Linked DNA regions of Homo sapiens: region 2 is linked to region 1. The links come from fine-mapping of genetic effects on gene expression. Tissue or cell type: whole blood. Region 1 holds a variant in brackets; the other region holds the start of a gene. All regions are shown on one strand. Distances are from middle to middle.

Evidence for each region. PIP is the estimated chance that this variant, and not a neighbour inherited with it, causes the effect.
Region 2: it holds the start of CXCL8, and the variant in region 1 is fine-mapped to the expression of CXCL8 in whole blood (TOPMed, PIP above 0.99).

Annotation. Positions count from the first base shown.
Region 1 is chr4:73,763,236-73,771,346 of GRCh38, reverse strand. No RefSeq gene overlaps it. Among named protein-coding and RNA genes, the nearest start is that of CXCL8, 27 kb to the right of the region's middle. The variant C/T (reference allele first, on the strand shown) is at 4,924.
Region 2 is chr4:73,735,946-73,744,056 of GRCh38, reverse strand. CXCL8 (C-X-C motif chemokine ligand 8) reads right to left here and starts at 3,488. Exons shown (of 4, transcript NM_000584.4): 1 at 3,335-3,488; 2 at 2,380-2,515; 3 at 2,025-2,108; 4 at 341-1,608. The coding sequence starts at 3,398. The coding sequence ends at 1,593. RefSeq lists a silencer at 4,731-5,025.

The DNA of each region.
Region 1 (8,111 bases):
CACAAGTAGCAAGGATTCCCAGAAAACGCATGAAGAAATAAAACTATCCTCCCTAATAGTTCTGTCAGCCTACTCATGAAAGCATGTCTTTTGGTAGTGAAGAAGAATATTTCCCTGACCCTTTCACAGGACTCACAACAGAGGTGCCTCATTTACTCAGTCAGCAGCTTTCAACTCTTGTGGGAGGGAGCACGCTATCAAATGAGGCAGGAACTGGATTGCATGAGCCCTGGAACCAGCTGGCTGCTTTGGTGCCAGCAGGAGCAAACTCCACTCACTTGCACCTGCTGTGTTCCACCCCTTTCAGGAGGGAGTGCACAGGTGAGCGAGTGCAGGAGCCAGGGCAAGCACATTTAGGCACTGGCAGGAGCAAACTCCATGTGGGCTTTGCAGCAGCATCAATGGGATGGTGCCTGTGACCCCTGAAGTCCCAGAGGACATGTTACAGTATTCTTTTAGCTCTCCCATCCACAGACAGCTAAAATGTTAATAGTTCAGTGGGACTTCTTTCTTTTCATGTGAGGTGGCTGCCTTCTGCCAGCGAGGGAAAAGGGCCAGTATGAAGCCTTTTGTATTCACACTTGTGGCTCCCAAGCTGTTGTCAGGTGTCCACGGAAAATGATGTCGCATGAATGATTTAAAGGATGGTAAATGTGGGAGATTTTATTGCCAATGAAAGTGGCTCTCAGTGGGAAAGAGAGCTGAAAAGGGGAAGTAATCTTCCCCTGAAGTCCAGCCATGTTCAGCAGGATTCTTCTCCAAAGTTACGTGGTCAAGCCATCCCTCTGAAGTCAAGCCACTTCTCTCCAATGTCTAGCTGTAGTCCCCAAGGTCCAGCTGCTTCTTCCCTCTGCTGGCTGAGTCTGGAGTCATTATAGGCACAGGATGGGGTGGGGCAGGGTCATGGGTGACTTAGGAAAAGGCAAAGTTCGCATGGGAAAACAGTTCTCACTTTGGCCATGGTCTCGGGCTTTTCAGCTTGAGGATAGGGCTTCACCAGGGACCTGCCCTTTTTTACCTAGAATTTCTCTGCCTCCTTTCCCCATCATTTCCCTTTTCAAAGCGGAACATCTCACTGCCATTAGAATACAGACAATGACCGATCTTAGCTACTTTCTGCTTACTGGGGACACTGTTTTGAAGAAAACAGTGGTCAGATTTCCCTCAGAGGTTTACCTAAGGGCCTCTGGTAAAAGGGAGCCATTGTCCGAGGCTCCAGTTACATGACCCTTTGGAATTTGATCGCCTTTAGGTGAGAAGAAACAAGTTTTACAGGGATAAGTTTGCATGGATCAAATATATGTATTATACAAAACGGGGTTAAAAGGAGATAATCTGGTGACAAAGTTTACAGAAATAAGAAGTAAAATATACTATTCCTTCTAGACACAATATTGTATCCTGCAGTATAGAACAGAATAAAGGTAAAAACAGCGAACATAGGCAAGACTATAAAGAGGATATCCATGGAAGTTTAACACTTATCTTTTGTAATTTTTAGCTTGAGGTCCCCAACCTCTTCATATTGGTACTTTGGGTACTCTTTGGGTTCATCAGCTTCCCAGGCATTTACATGGGTGTAATAAATTCAAGAATCTATTCCAGTGACCTATTGTAAAAGACAGGTGGCTGCTTTCAGGAGGTTCTCTAAAGTACTATCTGGTCCCAGGGCCTGTTTCTGCAGCTTCCTCCTGATCTCAGGGGCTGCCTGAGTAATAAATTTATCCTTTAGGATTAGTTGTCCCTTAACTGAATCAGGAAGTAGAGAGTTGTGCTTCACCAAGGCCTCTTTTAACCTTTCCAGGAGAGCAGTGGGATTCTCATCAAATACCTGGTCTATCATGGATAACTTAGAATAATTGAGAAGCTTAGTTCTAGTCCTACATAATCCCTCCATTATGCACACCTGAATGTGTCTCCTCTTCCATTCTCCCATCTTGTCAGTGAGATCCCATTTAGGGTTATCCAACGGTACTGCTTCTCTTCTAGTTGGATAAAGTTTGACCCCTTCCCTGACACTGTATGTAATAGAAAGCTCATTCCCCAAATCTCTCTGCCACTTGCAGAGTAGCCTGCTTCTCAGTGTTAGTCAGGCTTTGATTCAAAAGTAGCATAACATCTTCCCAGGAGAGTTCAAATACTTGAGTTAAGTTCTGGAAAGCCTCTATACATCTGTCAGCATCATGTGAAAACTTGCCAAGATCCCCCTTAATTGGCCTTAAGTCCTTTAGAGGGAAAGGGACCTGGATCTTACCAGGGACCAAATTCACCAGGCATCTGTTGGAGGGGCAAGAGTGGGACTGGGGCTTATCTAGGGTGAGGATTTCTAGGAGGGAGCAAACAGGAGAGATAAACTGGATAGGGAGGATGGGGTGGACCAAGAGGAGCAGGCAAGAGGGAGCTGGCTCCATTGCTAGAGGGGCCTCTGGGGTTCACCTCTTGTAGCCTTTCTGTGCATTGCAGAAAGGAAAATGATCAGATTATTTGGGGAATACTGGTCACTGGCTCTTAGCTGACATTCATTCCAGGGAACCCAAAATGCCACTGTGGTCCTCCAGTTAAAGTAGGGGCTTATGTAGGTCAGGTAATGTATGGAGTTTTAGCTAATGTCCCACTTCCAGTCAGTCCAATGGGTACCCAGACTCATCCTGTGGTTATTTCCCCAGTGCCAGAATCCATAATTCGCATAGACATACTTAGCAGCTGGTAGAATCCCCACATTGGCTCCCTGACTGGTAGGGTGAGGGTTATTATGGTGGAAAATGAAAGGCAGCTCAAATGGAAGCCATTAGAGCTGCCTCTACCTAAAAAAATAGTAAGTCAAAACAATATTGCATCCCTGAAGAGATTGCAGAGATCAGTGCCACCATGAAGGACTTGAAAGATGCAGATCCCTGTTCAACTCTCCTATTTGGCCCATACAGAAGATAGATAGATCTTGGAGAATGACAGTGGATTACTGTAATCTTAATCAAATGGTGACTTCAATTTCAGCTGCTGTACCAGATGTGGTTTCATTGCTTGAACAAATTAACACACCTCCTGGTACCTGGTATGCAATCACTGATTTGGCAAATGCCTTTTCCTCCCTTCTTGTCCACAAGGCCCAGCAGAAGCAAATTGCCTTCAGCTTGCAAATTGCCTTCAGCTGTCCTACCTCAGGGATCCATTACTCTCCAGCTTTGCATCATAATCTTGTTTGCAGATATCTTAATCCCTTTCCCTTCCACAAGATATCATACTGGTCCATTACATTGATGACATTAGGATGACTGGATCCAGTAGGTCATAAGTAGCAAACACATTGGGCTTATTGGTGAGATATTTGCATGCCAGGGGATGGGAAATAAAACTGACTGAAATTCAGGGAACTTCTACCTCAGCAAAATTTCCAGGGGTCCAGTGGTGTGAGACCTGTTGAGATACTCCTTCTAAAGTGAAGGATAAGTTGCTGCATTTGGCCACCCCTACAACCAATAAAGAGGCATAATGCCTAGTAGGCCTATTTGGATTTTGGAGGCAACACATTACTCATTTGAGTGTCTTACTCCAGCCCATTTATTGAGTGACCTGGAAGGCTCCTAGAATTGAATGGGGTCCATAACAGGAGAAGGCTCTGCAACAGGTCTAGGCTGCTGTGCAAGCTGCTCTGCCACTTGGGCCATATGACCCAGCAGATCCAACGGTGCTTGAGGTGTCAGTGGCAGATAGGGATGCTGTTTGGAGCTTTGGCAGGCCCCTATAGGTGAATCACAGCAGAGGCCTCTAAGGTTTCGGGGCAAGGACCTGCCATCTTCTGTAGATAACTACTCTTCTTTTGAGAGACAGCTTTTGGCCTGTTACTGGGCTTTGGTAGAAACTGAACATTTGACTATGGGTTATCAAGTCACCATGCGACCTGAAATGCCTATCATAAACTGGGTACTTTCTGATCCATTTAGCCACAAAGTGAGGTATGCACAGCAGCATTCCATCATTAAATGGAAGTGGTGTATACGTGATCGGGCTTGAGCAAGTCCTGAGGTCACAAGCAAGTTACATGAAAGAGTGGCTCAAATGACCATGGTCCCCACTCCTGCCACCCTGCCTTCTCTCCCCCAGCCTTCAGCGATGGCCTCATGGGGAGTTACCTATGATCAATTGACTGAGGAAGAGAAGACAAGTTCCCTGTTTGCAGATAGCTCTCCATGATATGCAGGCACCATCTGAATGTGGACAGCTGCAGCACTACAGCCCCTTTCAAGGACATTCCTAAAGGACAATGGCAAAGGGAAATCTTCCCAGTGAGCAGAACTTCAAGAAGTGTACCTGGTTGTGCACTTTGGTTGGAAGAAGAAATGGCCAGATGTCCAATTATATATTGGTTTATGGGCTGTAGCCAATGGTTGGGCCAGATGGTCAGGGACTTGGAAGAAGCATGATTGGAAAATTGGTGACAAATTTGGGGAAGAGATATGTGTGTGGACCTCTCTGAGTGGTCAAACACTGTAAAGATATTTGTATCTCATGTGAGTGTTCACTGAAGGGTGACCTTAACAGAGGAGCATTTTAATAATCAGGTGGATAGGACGACTCGTTCTGTGGATACCACTCAGCCTCTTTCCCCAGCCACCCTGTCATTGCCCAATGGGCCCGTGAGCAAAGTGGCCATGGTGGCAGGGATGGAGGTTACACATGGGCTCAGTAACATAGACTTCCACTCACTAAGGCTGACCCAGCTACGACTGCTGTTGAGTGCCCAATTTGCCAGCAGCAGAGATCAACTCTGAGCCCTCAATATGGCACCATTTCTTGGGGTGATCAGCAAGCTACTTGGTGGCAAGTTGATTATACTGGACCTCTTCCATCACGGAAAGAGCAGCAGTTTGTCCTCACTGGAATAAACACTTATTTGGGATATGGGTTTCCTATCCTGCACCAATG[C/T]TTCTGCCAAGACCACCATCTGTGGACTCACAAAATATTTTATCCACCATCATGGTATTATACACAGCATTGCCTCTGACCAAGGCACTCACTTTACAGCTAAAGAAGTGTGACAGTGGGTTCATGCTCATGGGATTCACTGGATTTACCATGTTATCCATTATCCTGAAGCAGCTGGATTGATAGAACAGTAGAATGGCCTTTCGAAGTCACAATTACAATGCCAACTAGGTGACAATACTTTGCATGGCTGAGGCAAAGTTCTTCAGAAGGCTGTGTATGCTCTGAATTAGTGTCCAATATATGGTACAGTTTCTCCCATAGCCAGGATTTACAGGTCCAGGAATCAAGGGATGGAAGTGGAAGTGGCACCACTCATCATCACCCCTAGTGACCCACTAGGAAATTTTTGCTTCCTGTTCCCATGACATTATGTTTTGCTGGCCTAGAGGTCTTAGTTCTAGAGGGAGGAATGCTGCCACCAGGAGACACAACTATGATTTCATTAAACTGGAAGTTAAGATTGTCACCTGGCCACCTTGCGTTCCTCCTACCTCTAAGTCAACAGGCTAAGAAAGGAGTTACATTGTTGGCTGGGGTGACTGACTCAGACCATCAAGATGAAATCAGCCTACTACTCCACAATGGAGGTAAGGAAGAGTGCACATGGAATACAGGAGATCCCTTAGGGTGTCTCTTAGTATTACCATGCCCTATGATAAAGGTCAATGGGAAACTACAACGGCCCAATCCAGACAGGACTACAAATGGCCCAGAACCTTCAGGAATAAAGGTTTCGGTCACTCTACCAGGTAAAAAACCACAACCTGCTGAAGTGCTTGCTGAAGGCAAAGGGAATACAGAATGGGTAGTAGAAGTAGTCATCAATACCAGCTAAGAACACATGACTAGATGCAGAGATGAGGACTGTAATTGTCATGAGTATTTTCTCCTTATTTTGTCAAGAACATGTTTGTGCATGTATACACTTGACTAAGAAAATATTTTCATTTTCTTTTTTTTCTTTATCATGTGACATAAGGTTTATTGACTTCATATCAGCATCTAAGTGTTATTAACTTTATGTAATAGCATTTGGGTTGGGGATTGGTGTGTTTCCAGTTGCAAAAGGATAGCTGTACTATGTAAGGCATAATTAAGACCTTATTATTGTCTTTATTTGAAAATTATGTATAATTTCAGGAGATGTATATGAGTTCAAGTTGACAAGAGGTGGACTTGTGATGGTTAATATCGAGTATCAACTTTTGATTGGATTGAAGGATGTAAAGTATTGTTCCAGTGTGTGTCTCTGAGAGTGTTGCCAAAGAAGATTAACATTTCAGTCAGTGGACTGGGAGAGGCAGACCCACCTTCAGTCTGGGTGGGCACCATTTAATCAGCTGCCAGCATGGCTAGGATAAAAGGTGGCAGATGAATATGGAAGGACGAGATTGGCTAAGTCTTCTGGCCTCCATCTTTCTCTCATGCTGTTTGCTTCCTGCCCTTGGACATTGGACTCTCAGCTCTTCAGCTTTTGGACTCTTGGGCTTACACCAGTGGTTTGCCAGAGGCTCTCAGGCCTTTGGCCACAGGCTGAAAGCTGTACTATTGGTTTCCTTACTTTTGAGGTTTTGGAACTTGGACTGGCTTGCAGATGACCTACTGTGGGACTTCACCTTGTGATCGTGTGAGTCAGTACTACTTAATAAACTTGCTTTCGTATACACAATGTATCATATTAGTCCTGTCTCTCAGAGAATCCTGACTAATACAGATGGAAATCACATTGTTCTGAATCGCATATCTGATGGCTGGGCCAAAAGCTCATTCTATCTAGTAAAATGTCTGCTGTTTGCAGTAAAACTCTTATTATTACGAAAAAAGATATAGGAGTCATGTCAAACTGTGAAAGAAGAAAGGGAAAGATACCATAGAAAAGTCTAGGGTCTTGGTTAATGTTCTAATGGGCAGTTGGGGACTGGAGCCCCTCTAAGGGCCTTCTGGCAACACTGAGTAGTGACCTTGGCCAGTAGCCTACAGTTGCCCCAGGACTTTATTCTGGTCTGACACGAAGTCCAGACCCCCATGAAGGTAAAAAGAGCCAACATTCCTTGCACCAGGAAGAGAGAGGTAACAGGGTTGCATCCTGTCCCCTGCAAATAGCATAGCTCAGAGGAAAGTCTGAGGACAAGAAATCTTGGAAAAGAAGTGAAGAGAAAGATCCAGCTGATCCGCATTTACTCACCCTTCTTACATATCCTGTATAGGCCCCCACATGAAGCAGGATATTTCCCTGACCCCTTCACAGGACTCGCAACAGGGGTGCCTCATTTACTCAGCCAGCAGCTCTTAACTCCTTGCAGAAGGGTGTGCGTGAGTGAATGAGGCGAGAACTGGATTGCAGGAGTGCTGGAAACAGCTGTCCACTTCAGTGCTGGCATGAGTGAACTCCACTTACTCAGACTTACTGCAGGAGGGAGCACACAGGTGAGCGGGCAGGATTTGGGGTGAGCGCTTTTGGGTACTGGCAGGGGCAAACTCTGTGCAGGCCCCACAGCAGCAGCATCTACAGGGGGATGCCTGTGACCCTTGAAGCTTCAGAAAGCATGTTACAGTGCTCTTTTAGCTCTGCTGTCCACAGACAGCTTAAGTTTTAACAGCTCAGTGGGTCCTCTGCCTTAGACAGCCTTTTGTATCCACACTTATGGCTCCCAAGCTCTTGTTCAGCATCCAGGAAAAATGAGGTTGCACAAACGAATTGAAGGATGTTAAATGTGTGTGATTTTACTGCTGATGAAAGTGGCCTTCAGTGGGAAGAGGAGCTGAAAAGGGAACAGGGAAGGAAGATAATCTTCCTCTGAAGTCCAGCTGTCTCCGGCAGGATTCTTCTCCAAAGTTATGCCATCAAGCTGTCCCTTTGAAGTCCAGCCACTTCTCTCTGACATTTAGCTATAGTCCTCAATATCCAGCTGCTTCTCTGCTTTGCTTGCTGAGTCCAGGGTCTTTATAGGTACATGATGGGGTGGGGCAGGGCCATGGGTGGCTTAGGAAAAGGCAACATTTGAATGGGAAAACAGGGTTATAAGTTCTCACTTTGGGCTGTGGTCTCAGGGTTTTAGGCTTGAGGTTGAAGCTTCACCAGGGATCCGCCGTTTTCTGCCCAGAATTTCTCTGCCTCCTGTCCC
Region 2 (8,111 bases), 27 kb after region 1:
GATAAGCAACTTATAATATGTACTCTCTTTCCTCTTTAAATGTCCAGCTATGCTAAAGCGCACAGACATACAAACCGGTTAATCGAAATCTGAAGACAGACTTATTAGCAAGATAGTATACAGTGGGGAGTTGAAAACATTTCCAACATTCTGTGGAGGACACTACTGTTTGTAACCTATTTCTGGAAAGGAGTTCTGTTTTCTAAAAATAAAAGTTTGTAATTTTCCATAAACAAAATGCTAAGGGGAAGCATTTATGTTTTCTAAATCAAAGTATAATTTTAAATATAAACAAAGAGAATCCCAATAAGCTAAAACTAAAAAAAAGACAAACACTTGATTACTTTGACAACAAATTATATTTTAAATGTTTCATATTTACTTTTATATTTCCATACAATCAGAAACAGTAAAAAAAATTTGGAGAGCACATAAAAACATCTTAAAGTTAAAAATATAAAGCCTTGTATTTAAAAATGCAGTCATTTAAATAATATTATAAGAATCTATTTGTACATAATAAACAAGTTTCAACCAGCAAGAAATTACTAATATTGACTGTGGAGTTTTGGCTGTTTTAATAGTTCTAACTCATTATTCCGTAATTCAACACAGCACTACCAACACAGCTGGCAATGACAAGACTGGGAGTATCAAACTAGGATTGTTAGTTCAATTAAAATTTCAGATAAACAATAATGTACTTATACTAAAAAATTATTTGTTGTTTATCTGAAATGAAAATTTAACTGGGTACCCAATTGTTTGTTTGTTTAATCTAAAAACCCTGATTGAAATTTATCTAATAAAACATCATTTAATATCTAAAATAAAATAAATTTACTATAACATCTTTATAACTATTCAATCAATGATTCATCTTCTATTTTTCCAAATTCTTGCACAAATATTTGATGCTTAAATAAATACATAAATAATAAATAGGTTAATAAGTTACACTTGAAAATAATTTATGTTATGATGAAAAAACTTAAAGTGCTTCCACATGTCCTCACAACATCACTGTGAGGTAAGATGGTGGCTAATACTTTTTCCACTTAGAAATAAAGGAGAAACCAAGGCACAGTGGAACAAGGACTTGTGGATCCTGGCTAGCAGACTAGGGTTGCCAGATTTAACAGAAAAAAATCCAGGATTTCCAGCTAAATTTGACTTTATGGCAAAATTTATTGTCCCATCATTTTTATGTGATGCTTCAAATATCACATTCTAGCAAACCCATTCAATTCCTGAAATTAAAGTTCGGATATTCTCTTGGCCCTTGGCCTCAATTTTGCTATTTGTATATTCTCCCGTGCAATATCTAGGAAAATCCTTATATTTAAAAATTATTTGTTGTTTTTTGTAGATTCAAATAAATAATACTTTACATATAAGTATGTTCTGGATATTTCATGGTACAATGAAAAACTATTCATTGTTTACTGAAATTCAAATTTAACCAGGAATCTTGTATTGCATCTGGCAACCCTACAACAGACCCACACAATACATGAAGTGTTGAAGTAGATTTGCTTGAAGTTTCACTGGCATCTTCACTGATTCTTGGATACCACAGAGAATGAATTTTTTTATGAATTCTCAGCCCTAAAATAAAATTAAAAATATAAAGATGAGCTATGTTTAATAAGAAGGAAAGTAGGGTTCTTGAAAAGTCAATATAGTCTTTGACATTCATGTGTTAGAAATGCTCTATATTCTCAACTATAAATAGGGAGATCAAAGAAATTATCATCTAAAATAGGACACTACTGGGAGTGACAAAGAACTTTACTAAGAGTATAGGACACAAGCTTAAACCCAGAATTTCCTGGGCAAACTATGTATGGTCTTTCTGGTCATGAGTACAACAAACTCACTATTGATGCTATTCCTTTTTTTTTTAACCAAAAAGGCAGATACCTAATGACGATTTTTAGCAACAGAAAGAAATTTATAGGCTGACTTTGGATTATATGTCTCAGGATAAATGAAAAATTTAAATTAAAAAATATATAACTTACCTCTTCAAAAACTTCTCCACAACCCTCTGCACCCAGTTTTCCTTGGGGTCCAGACAGAGCTCTCTTCCATCAGAAAGCTTTACACTGAAATAAGAAAGAAATGGTTCAGATTAATATTTAGTTTTTGCATTCAAATCATGATTCCTTAAGTCAGGCATAAAGTCTAAGTCCAAAATAACATTTATAGTAGTTGTGGAAGCTACCATATTTAAATGTCATGTAGACAAATATTTTTATTTTGTTTTGTTTCATTTACTACTGTAATCCTAACACCTGGAACTTTCCTAAATATTTCCACCTTCCTTAATTTTAAGTTTGCTAAAACAAAATATCTAATCTTTTTTAAAGTACTTACATAATTTCTGTGTTGGCGCAGTGTGGTCCACTCTCAATCACTCTCAGTTCTTTGATAAATTTGGGGTGGAAAGGTTTGGAGTATGTCTTTATGCACTGACATCTAAGTTCTTTAGCACTCCTTGGCAAAACTGCACCTGTTGGGGGAAAAAGTGATTAAGGATTGATTTTATCAACAGGCACAGCTCTGCCAGCTACTTCCTTTCTAATTCCAATATGATTATTTGGAGACTATGGAAGGCATCATGTTTCTAGTGAACTCATTCCTGAATATTCTCCTAGCCCTTGACCTCAGTTAGTTCTTTGTTTTAAAAAACAGTCATAACTGACAACATTGAACGACTTCCTATATAAAGAGTTAGAGTTCTTTTTGTACAATATCAACATCTTCATGGTATTTTTATCTGGTCAATATTGCATAATCCTCTGTGATACCACAGTGTTATTTATAGTAGGCAAGCTAAGACTCTCCAGCATAGAAATTGCCTTCAGAAAGAATTAACAGAAATATATAAATAAGTTATACATGCCTGGTCTATAATCAGGGTATCTTTAAACCAGACAGGAATTAATGACAAATCTGAGGCTTGTCAATGAAATACTACAAGGAGTGGAATTGTCTGAGTTACCTTGCTCAACTCAATATTAATACATAATATAGGTAACCGTGGTTCTCAATAGGACATACTATAAATTACTTATTTACGTTAAATATATGCATGCTACATGGTATAAATTATAAAAGCAGAATATCTATATTGATCAAACTTTATACTTTCCTAAGTGTTATATATAGTTTTTTCTAAATCTTCAATTTAACATTAATTGACTGCTAAGATTATATTCTGTTTCTGAATAAAAAGGATGTTTGTTACCAAAGCATCAAGAATAGCTTTGCTATCTAAGGATCACATTTAGACATAGGAAAACGCTGTAGGTCAGAAAGATGTGCTTACCTTCACACAGAGCTGCAGAAATCAGGAAGGCTGCCAAGAGAGCCACGGCCAGCTTGGAAGTCATGTTTACACACAGTGAGATGGTTCCTTCCGGTGGTTTCTTCCTGGCTCTTGTCCTAGAAGCTTGTGTGCTCTGCTGTCTCTGAAAGTTTGTGCCTTATGGAGTGCTCCGGTGGCTTTTTATATCATCACCCTACTAGAGAACTTATGCACCCTCATCTTTTCATTATGTCAGAGGAAATTCCACGATTTGCAACTGATGGCCCATCCCCTCAGGGCAAACCTGAGTCATCACACTTCCTATTTGTTCCTTATCAAATACGGAGTATGACGAAAGTTTTCTTTGATCTTTAAAATAATTTAATTTTAATATACATTTAAAATACTGAAGCTCCACAATTTGGTGAATTATCAATTGTATGCTTTTTTATTTCTAGATAACTTTATCATAGTACCATGTGACAGATATAGTACTAGAGTGGCAGGTGTTAGAACAAGATCATGGATGATTTTCTTTTAATGGCATAATTATTTTTTTTCAGTTAATTACAGATGCTATCATGATGGTGAAGATAAGCCAGCCAATCATTTTATTGGGGAGGTAATTTAAAATAAATCTTTTTCTAAGCATTTTAGAGAGTTTCTAGGAACTGTTACTGCTCTTAGGGGGCATACTACAACTTTTCAAAAGATTTAGTTTTCTAATGCATGTTAACAGAGTGAAGGGGCACATGTGCTTCACATAGAAATCAGTTCCACAAACATTTATGGAGTAACTTTCTGAGTAATGTGGGGGATCTAGAAATAGATAAGACTAGGTACTTGTCCTTAAAGAGTTTGGTCTATCAGAAGAAGAAAGCAATGTAAGGACTGACTATATAGCAGAATAGACAAGTGGTACTAAGACATTAATTCCAGTGGAGGCATAAGAGCAGAATCTTCCAAAGGCAGTTGGAGCAAGGCATTGAGGAATAGGAGGGCTTCAATAGAGGAAGATGAAAGAGAACAGCACATTCCAGATAGGAACAGTATTCAAGGCCACTCAAGTTGTAAAGTTAAGGTATGTTTATGCTCCAGAAAGTGGTGCACTGGAGCTGCTTGGTTGGGGTGGGAGGGAGGTGTTATCTAATGGAAAGTTGTATGCTTAGTGGAAAGAGCATCTGGGTTCCAACTCTGGTTCAGCCACTGTTGCTTCATGCTCTTTATCCAAGGACACCAAGTCTGACCTCTGAGGACCCATGATCACTAGCAAAAGGGATGGAGTGAGAAATTTCAACAAATCATAAAAAGGTGGCTTTATGTCCTAGTGTCCTGAAGAAAAGAATCCAAGACCTTTCTTGAAAGGTCTTGGATTCTGTAGATAAAGAGCACCAAGGAAGGGTTCTTATGATAGTAAAAGTCTGTTCGCTTCTGGGCAAGTACATAATTTATAAATAATTCACCTTGGTGTAACAGTTCTTCATTTTCAGAAAGTACGACAGAGCAGTGAATTTGCCCACACTGTGAACACACTGTGGAGGGGGAATGCCATTTTCAAATGCTTTCCAAAAAGGTTTGTCTGTTTCTGCACAATCATGTTTCTTTTTGTTATCTTTCTCCAACCAACCTAAGACTTGAGGATAAAATAATGCCTGGGTTACACTGAATTCTATAGCAAAGTAAATGTTTATTCTATATAATGTAGCTCCTATAGTTTTCAACTGTAGTATTTCAGAAACTTCATTATTCATTTAATATGTGTTGTTTATCTGCTAATGTCCCTTATTGTAGGAGATGTGAATGCTATGTAAATAGATATAGTACCTGACTTAAAGGACTTTGTTGTCTAGTGCAGAATATGGAAAATTAGTTACACAAGTAAGTAAAATACAGTGATGAGTGTTACAATAACAGGTAATTACAGGAAGTTCTGGAATCAAACAAACATGATCTTTGAGGCAGTTTTGATGAATGAAGGTTTTCTGAAGAAACAACATCAAAAGTGTTACCTTTATTGTTAATGAGGAGAAGAAAGACCAATGGGACTGCTTTGCTAGTACAGGACAGGAAGTACAGGACAATGAAATGTAGGCGAACATGGCCCATTTGGGTTTCTCAAACTATTTAGCATACGGAACACAGTGCATGGAGTGACAAGAAGAGAAAGCTTGGGCCGGATAGGTAAAAAAGACCTATATCTTAAAGAAAACTCCAAGTTTCTTTGCTTCAGTGATGTTGGCATGTTTAGCAAAGACACATTCTCATATGGACACAACCTGGCTTGACTGATTCAGTTCACTATCATTAAGACTCACTCATACAGCATCACTAAGACATTCAGAGTTCTGAGGATGTGCAAAGACTTCTTTGCTTTTCCCTAACGGTTGCCTTTGTATTTATGGTGAGCCCAACTTACATAGACACCTCGTTTTCCTCCTTATTTTCATGTCACTATATCTCCCTCTCATTCTCTTCTCATGGGCCCAACTTTATCCTGATATCATCCTTAAAGTTTGAGCTAATGAGGTCTACTTAACCTTGATGCTCACATTTTTTTTTAAGAATGAAGCCTTTCCAAGGCAAAAAGACCTCTTTTGCAAATGTTGTTCATCTCTCACAATGTAACCTTCAGTGCATTATGTCCTAGAACCCTCTCCATCAGAAGTGGGAATGGACAAAGATGAAGTGACTACAAGAGCATTGATTCTATCTTGTCTCACTTCTGTAAAGATAACCATTTGAGTCCTTGCATAATGAGTAGAAGGACTAAATGGGCTTAGGCGGAAAAAAAAAAGCAGGACTAAGTATCCTTTTTAAGGATATTCTGCTTTAAAATAGAGCAAAGTGGGGTACAAAGTTTAACTAAAGTGCCACGCTACACATAAATACAAATGTTTTGTCATCTTCTAGAGATGAATGCAAAGTGAGTTCATGAGACTTAACTGTTTATTTACGTCCCATTCGGCTCCTGAGCCATAAGAATCATTTGATGAGCAGAGACTAGCACCTAGATATCCTCATTAGACGTTGACGAAGTCTATCACCCAAGAAAAGGAAGAGTTCAAGAAAGAACAAAGACGGCCGGGCGCGGTGGCTCAAGCCTGTAATCCCAGCACTTTGGGAGTCCGAGGCGGGCGGATCACGAGTTCAGGAGATCCAAACCATCTTAGCTAACACGGTGAAACCCCGTCTCTACTGAAAATATAAAAAATTAGCCGGGAGCGGTGGCGGGCGCCTGTAGTCCCAGCTACTCAGGAGGCTGAGGCAGGAGAATGGCGTGAACCCAGGAGGCGGAGCTTGCAGTGAGCCGAGATAGCGCCACTGCACTCCAGCCTGGGTGAAAGAGCGAGACTCCCGTCTAAAAAAGAAAGAACAAAGACAAAGATGGCCTCTACTTTTCCCATATTAGTACATAACTCTTCCATCAAACTCCATGAAACTGGGTGTTTCTTGCCTATGCAAAATCATCTAAATCCCCTCCCACCCACGCCATAGGAATTTTAGAATTAGGACTTTTTTGTAAGCCTGAACTAAGTTGTAGTCATATAACAAAGCAAAATATGGTGGGCAAAATGTGGTATGAGCTTTGAAATGAAATGAACTTGGGTTTAAATCTTGTTCCATGGTTTATTAATCAGGAGATCTTGGGCAAGCTGATTCTATGCCCATTGTTCAACTCCTGCTGCTAAAATCTGAGATCCCGTCAGAGCTGCCTTTCTCAGTCTCAGGAGCAGTCTCAGCTCTCACCTGGGTTTTTTTCCCATTTGAGGAAATTAGTCCCAGCTCAACAATCCTCTAGGTTAAAAGAATCATAAACAGAATGCTTAACATATATTAGTGAGTTTGACTTACGATGTTGTTAATGTTAAGAGTCATAAACATAAACATACTGCCCACTAAAATTTTAGTCAATAAAAGTCAGAGTTAGTGGAAAGATTTAAAATATGTTCTCAGCTCTGTACTTTGTTTATGTGATAACTTGATCTTCTCTAGTACCGCAAGACCATTTCAGTTCCATCTCCAAATTCAAATGTCTCCAGTTAACAGTTTATAACAATACTGAGCAAAGTTGGTTCGTGTTGCCAAAAGTGTCCTACCTTTTAAAGAAAAATCTTGGTAATTGGAGAAGCAAACAGCTGAACACATTGGATTTGAGCAACACAAGTCAGAATAACTTAAATTTAAGGGTATGTATGGGTGTTGGAATAAGACAAACCTGCCTTCAAGCCTCACCCCTCCACTTATTATTAGCCAAACAATCATAGGCAGTTCTTTAATCTGACTGTCTCTCAGTTACCTCATCTGTAAAAATGAGAATAACACAGTTCCAAAGGATCACCATGAGAATTAAATGAGGAAACATAATGAAAATGCCCAGAATGGCACCTGGCACATTGGAGGTACTCAGTAAATGTCTGCATCTTTTTCCTCTAGACTATCACTTCAGTCACCCTTATCTTTTCCTGGAGTTAGAGCACCACATTTCTTTTTAAAAGCTTACCACTCAAAAAGTAAAGCTGTATTAACACAATAGATCTCTTAAAGCTTATGTCTAGATGCTTTATTTTCTTCCACTATATAAGCTTTCTTTTTTAATGCCTAACAATTCCATTTGCATTCACATGTAAAAAAATGTACTATAACCATTAATATGAATGCCATTTCTAATACTATCCAAATCGGTGGAGTTTGGAGTTTGAAGTTTGAAGTTTAGGTTTAGGGGAAGACACCAGTTGTGTAAACAGGCATTTATTAAGGACTTAGAAAGGCTAAGATCAGCCAATCTTCAATATGAAAA